Linked DNA regions of Homo sapiens: region 1 is linked to region 2. Evidence: fine-mapped expression QTL. A gene starts in region 2. The other region holds a variant in brackets. All regions are shown on one strand. Distances are from middle to middle. Region 1 has its middle 37 kb from the start of PPP1R12A-AS1. Region 2 holds the start of PPP1R12A (protein phosphatase 1 regulatory subunit 12A).

Region 1 (2,916 bases), 37 kb before region 2:
TCGGCTTTTTTGCCTGAATCAATATTTCACTGGAGGTTCCAAAATGATGATTTTTCTAATTCTATTATTTCTTCAATATTAAAAAGCTGACATTCTTTTGTAAAAAAAAAAGAGGTTTCACATATTAACTGGTTTCAACAGTTCTTTAAAAAAATGACATGGTAAATAATTTCTTACCTAATTCCAGAATAAGATGCTGATATAAATGTCTCCTCCACTTGTAGCAAATGAGTTTCTCTCTCTCTCTCTCTCCCCCGCCCCGTCTCTCTCTCCCTCCCTCCCTCTCTTTCCCTCTCTCTTTCTCTCTCTCTCTCCTCAGAACTCATGGGTTTTTATTTATTCAATGTTTTATAATCATTTAGTTATTCTTTACAGATGCTTAATTTGTTCCAAATTTGGTCAATGGAAGCTGCTTCCAGCTAGTTCCTTTGTTTGAAGACTTCCTTGCTTTCTGGCCCATGGCACTGCAGGCTCTATTTTTACCTAACTGCCTCAGACTTTGAATTAGCCATTTCTTTAAGGGAACCTAGTTCCTTCAGAGATATTTCCAATTCAAACTCAACATTATATGATTTTTTTGTAAGTTATTTGATTTCATACTTACGTTATCCTTTTCTTACACTGAAAATCTTGTCTCCTTAAATATTTATGTATTTTCCCCAAAAATATGCAATAATGGTTTAAAAATTATAATAGCAATATTATACTAACAATAAAAATCAGAGAGATGCTTAAGGTTTTTCTTCTTTGTTTCTTTTTTTGTTTGTTTTGAGACAGAGTTTCACCTTGTTACCCAGGCTGGAGTGCAACAGCGTGATCTCGGCTCACCGCCACCTCCAACTCCCAGGTTCAAGCGATTCTCCTGCCTCTGTCCCCTGAGTAGCTGGGATTACAGGCATGCACCACCACGCCCGGCTAATTTTGTATTTTTAGTAGAGATGGGGTTTCTCCATGCTGGTCAGGCTGGTCTCAAACCCCCAACCTCAGGTGATCCACTCGCCTCGGCCTCCCAAAGTGCTGGGATTACAGGCGTGAGCCTCCATGCCCGGCCTTTTCTTTGTTTCTTAAGTTTTTTTACTCTTTAGATTATATTTCATTATATCTCAATAGGATGCACAGAGTATTACATTCACTGGAAATATATTTTTTTCTCTCTGTGTGGTTATGTTTGCAATTTGACATATAGCAAGACTTATTTGTTTATCTTTTCAGTTTTAGAGATTCTTGGTTTGAAATTAATCTTGTGTTATTTAATATGTAAAATATTTACATGATTCAAAACCAAAACTACATAAAAAGGCATACATTGATTACTTTTTTTTTTTTTTTTTTGGAGACAGAGTCTCCCTCTGTCACCCAGGCTGGAGTGTAGTGGCATGATCTCGACTTACTGCAACTTCTACCTTCTGGGTTCAAGCGATTCTCCTGCCTCGACCTGCAGAGTAGATGGGACTACAGGAGCCCACCACTACACTCAGCTGATTTTTTATATTTTAGTAGAGACAGGGTTTCACCATGTTGCCCAGGGTGGTCTCAAACTCTTGAGCTTAGGCAATCTGCCCACCTCGGCCTCCCAAAGTGCTGGGATTACAAGCCTGAGCCACTGTGCCCAGCCTGATTTCTAAA[T/C]CTCACATAATTCCCTTTCCCCTTCACCCCATTTCAAAAATCACCCCATGGATAACCTTTTCTTTTTTTAGTTCCTTGTTATACTTCCTGTGTTTCTTTGTGCAAAAGTAAACAGAACATATGCACCTTGATTTTTTTTTACTGAGCCATATATCATGGAGATCTTCCTCATTTTTTAATAACTGCATAATAATTTAAAATTCGGCAATATCATAGTTTATTCAACCAGTCCCCAGAGCTGATTCCTAGAAGTAGGATTGCTGGATCAAAGGATAAATAAAATTATAATTTTTCTGAATAAGGTTCTGTATTTTTTTAGGTTTTCCAGAAAATTCCAATAATCAGCCATAGTTGGTAACCAATAACCCATATTTTGATAGCCATAGTATATTGGTTTAATCAAAGCAGCAAGTTTTAATTGAGCCACTACCTTGAGCTGGGCATTATGGGAGAATTTAAAAAACTATATTCTCCTCCTGCCCTCAATGAGTTACTAAAAGGAGTTGTCCTGCCCTAATCTCCTGAAGGAGGCAAGTTTAATCAGCAAAGGAAAGAAATAGATTGTATTTAAATGTTGCTGTTTCTTTTACTACCAGAGTTTTCATAATAGGAACTGGATATGCAGTACTTGATAGATTTTACACTTTACATCACTCAGAATGCTAAGGGTTATAATGCAATTATGATCTTGAGCCAATGATCATTTTCTCTTACGGAGAAAAAGTTGTTTTCTACAGCAAAAAAATTGTTTTCTATAGCAAAGATTTTTAACTTGGACATGACCCATTAGTGGGCTGTGAAATCAACTTAGCATGTTGTAAACAACATGAAATAGAATAGAATAAAAAGTATCAGAGTGCACCATAGGTAGTAAAGGCTTGTATTATTTCATGCAAATATTTATATCTATAAACACACATACATTTGTAAGAATACTAAATGTGACATAAAATTAATTTCTTAAGGTAAACTGATCAAAAAGATTGAGAAACACTACTTCATAGGAAAGGAACAATTGTTTTCTTTGAGTAACAGCTACTCATTTTTTACATTTAACATATTAGTCGTATACTGCTACAATTTAGTCCCTTGGTCTAGACGTATGCTTATTTGGGTCTGGTATTATGTAATAAGTTTTACTCAATGACTTTTTTGTTTTGATTTTTAAAATTATTCTTTTTAGCTTATAAAATACAATAAAATAAAATACATTTAAAGCAGAAACGACAAGCTGTTGCCCCTCATTTATTCTATCTATGTAGTCTGACAGGCACTTGGTTTTATCACACC
Region 2 (2,916 bases):
TCAGAGGAAATATTTTTACCCTGACCTGGATTCTATCGCTATCCTAATAACTGTGGTTCAGAAAATTGTCTCACAGGCAGACAGTTTCCTAATCACGTTTTACTCAATTATTTTATTTCTCAATATGATAGGCTGTGAAGTAGTCCACTGGAAAAGGCATCATGCTGAGAGTAAGAAAAGCTTATTTGTTCACTGCTCTATCTCCAGCACCTAGAACAATGCCTGACCCAGAACAGGTGCATAGTATTTGCTGAGTGAATTCTAATCCTACTTCTGGGTAAAATTAAGTAAATTAATTAGTTCTTGAGGGACTCTGTCTAGATGACCCCTAAACTTCCATGGTAAGGTTTTGTGGTTTTTATCTTGGCTTTTCTAAATGCTCTAAAAATAGTAGTGGATGGTAACAATGCAGTGTTCAGTAAAATCAATTGGTGGAGATTGTAGATAGATGGCTCATAAGACATCAGTATTACAAATCCTATGTGTGTGCGCGTGTGGTCATACAAGGCAAAGTTAAAGTCTTTTTTTTATGACGATGATAAATTAGTCTTGTTTGGGCGACTGAACTCAAGAGGTGGTTCAAATAAATGTCATATTTTTCATTGTATCTTCAGTGCCTAGTACAGTTACTGGCTCATAGTAGGTATTCAATAAATAGTGGTTGAATTAATTGCCTTCCTTAACGTTCCGTTTAAATGCTAGACGCAGCTAGGTCTTTACCCCTCCTTAGAAAGAGATGGAGCTGTAACCAGAAATCCCTTAAAAGGTAAGGACCAGTAATCAGGCTGAGCTAAGCTCATGGGTAGTACGAGACAGGCTTAAAGCACTGAAGGAAGAAAGAAGAGAACCCAAGCGTGAGAGAAAGCAAAACAAAACAAGTAAAGAGAGGAAGAAAAACATTTCTAAAGTGGGGGTTGGCAGGAAGCCACAGCAATTACAGCAGGTCAACCCTTGTCAATAGGTGGTCACCTCAAGAACTTACCATTAAAACCCTCGGCCACACAGACCCCACTTTTAAAAGGTTATTAATTCTGACATGCCCAAGTTCATCTGAGTTCCTTAGAAAGATCAACCAGCAGCACCTACTTCACGACCTATCCTCCATTCCATTCAAATAACGCGGCCAATAGGAAAATCCTCCGCCCTGAGCCAACGACTCGGCGTAGCTGAGACAGCACGGGAGGCAGATCTGCCCTGTAGAGCCTTGCGGTTCCACTGCTGGCCTCCGGATTCCCGGGAGCCCCCAGCCCGACAGGACAACCTTCCTTCCCCGCTTCCTCCTTTCCAGGTCTGTCCCAGCCCCCGCTGCCTGGGCCACACCCGCTTCCCTCTGGTGGCCCAGCCACCACCGCCGCAGTTCGCGGGAGCGCTCTTCCTGGGGCGGGCACAGGCCCAGGGCGCATGCGCACTGGTCGAAGGGCGCCTCCCAGTCCGGATCTCGCGAAGTTACGTTAGATTGGCCGCCGGTGACGGGTGGCCGTGCTGGGGGCGGGAGGGCTTCTGTGGTAGGAAGGGAGGTCCGCTCGGCCGGGTGCGCCGCCCCAGTGCTCTGTGGGATACTGGAAGTCTCGAGCGTCGGCTCCGGGTTCCCAGCCCTCCTCTGGCCCGCACTCATAGAAACATTCACACACCCCCTGCCTCCCCTCTCTTCCCTCTCCGCCTCCCCCTTCCCCCCCTCGCGATAAGAAGACCCGGCGGCAGGAGAGGGGATGAAGATGGCGGACGCGAAGCAGAAGCGGAACGAGCAGCTGAAACGCTGGATCGGCTCCGAGACGGACCTCGAGCCTCCGGTGGTGAAGCGCCAGAAGACCAAGGTGAAGTTCGACGATGGCGCCGTCTTCCTGGCTGCTTGCTCCAGCGGCGACACGGACGAGGTCCTCAAGCTGCTGCACCGCGGCGCCGACATCAATTACGCCAATGTGGACGGACTCACTGCCCTGCACCAGGTCTGTGCGCCCCGCCGCCGGCTCTCCTGACCGTGAGGGTTCTCGTCGGCCTCCTGCTCGGGCCTGCCCTCAGTTCTCCACCTCTTGAGGCTGGGGGCGGCGGGAGACTCCCTGCTGCGGGGTGAGGGGGCGGTTTCCCCAGAGGGCGGGAGGGAGAGCTGGTGGAAGGGAGGGCGCTGGGCTTGAGGCCCCCCTTCAGAACAGTTGCTGGTGGAGTTGGGAACCGGGTGATTTCCGGGGCATAGGGGAAAAGGAACTGTGGTCGTTTGGGGCCCCAGGGCCATTCGTGGATAAGTCTGGGATTTGGGGTCGAGACAAGGAGGGGTGTAGTGGGGTTGTGCCTGGGCCCCGGTGTCAGTGGTATATTCGGAGGGGTGGATGCTGAAGGAAGAAAACTAACAAGGGGCATTACGGACGGTTAGGCAGATGAACATCTTTGACTTGTAGGTGGGCATTGGATTTGTTGCACTTTTTAGGACTTGATTACAAATGATGATAATAATAGTAATCTAGAGCCCTAAGCCGAGTGCCCTGAACGAACGATTTCCTGTTTTCTCATTTATTACTCTTGGTCACTGGGGAGGGGAAAACAGGGTGTAATTAGCTGATCTGCACCGGCTGAAAGGAAGGGGATGGAAGTGGGTAGAGTAAGGAAGCCCTCTAAAGGGCTTGCCCACCTCCGGACCGGAACGTGTTGAGTCTGATACTCGAAGTTTGCCGCAGTGTCAGAGATCCTTGAGCCCCAGGTCCTCGGGTGTGCACTGGTGTTAGAAAGAGAAGAATAAATAGGGGACACTCTTTTCAAAGCCGGTTACCAAGCTCTGGTTTTTCTTTTGGGGTTGGGAAAAAAGAAAGCTGGTCACAAACTTTTCTCAAAATGGATGCTTTGTGCATATTAAAGTTTTATAGTAGTCTGATTGGGATCTCTCAATGTTAGCCAAATAAGGAGAAACTATTGGCAATCCAGAGA

Evidence for each region. PIP is the estimated chance that this variant, and not a neighbour inherited with it, causes the effect.
Region 1: its variant is the best candidate, but not a certain one, in a credible set for the expression of PPP1R12A in whole blood (TOPMed, PIP 0.51).

Annotation. Positions count from the first base shown.
Region 1 is chr12:79,970,554-79,973,469 of GRCh38, reverse strand. No RefSeq gene overlaps it. Among named protein-coding and RNA genes, the nearest start is that of PPP1R12A-AS1, 37 kb to the right of the region's middle. The variant T/C (reference allele first, on the strand shown) is at 1,627.
Region 2 is chr12:79,933,725-79,936,640 of GRCh38, reverse strand. It overlaps PPP1R12A (protein phosphatase 1 regulatory subunit 12A), which reads left to right and starts at 1,544. Exons shown (of 25, transcript NM_002480.3): 1 at 1,544-1,946. The coding sequence starts at 1,710. It overlaps PPP1R12A-AS1 (PPP1R12A antisense RNA 1), which reads right to left and starts at 1,360. Exons shown (of 2, transcript NR_146535.1): 1 at 1,087-1,360. RefSeq lists enhancers at 1,029-1,594, 1,318-1,612, 1,659-1,958, 1,595-2,158, 2,299-2,358 and 1 more and a silencer at 2,039-2,128.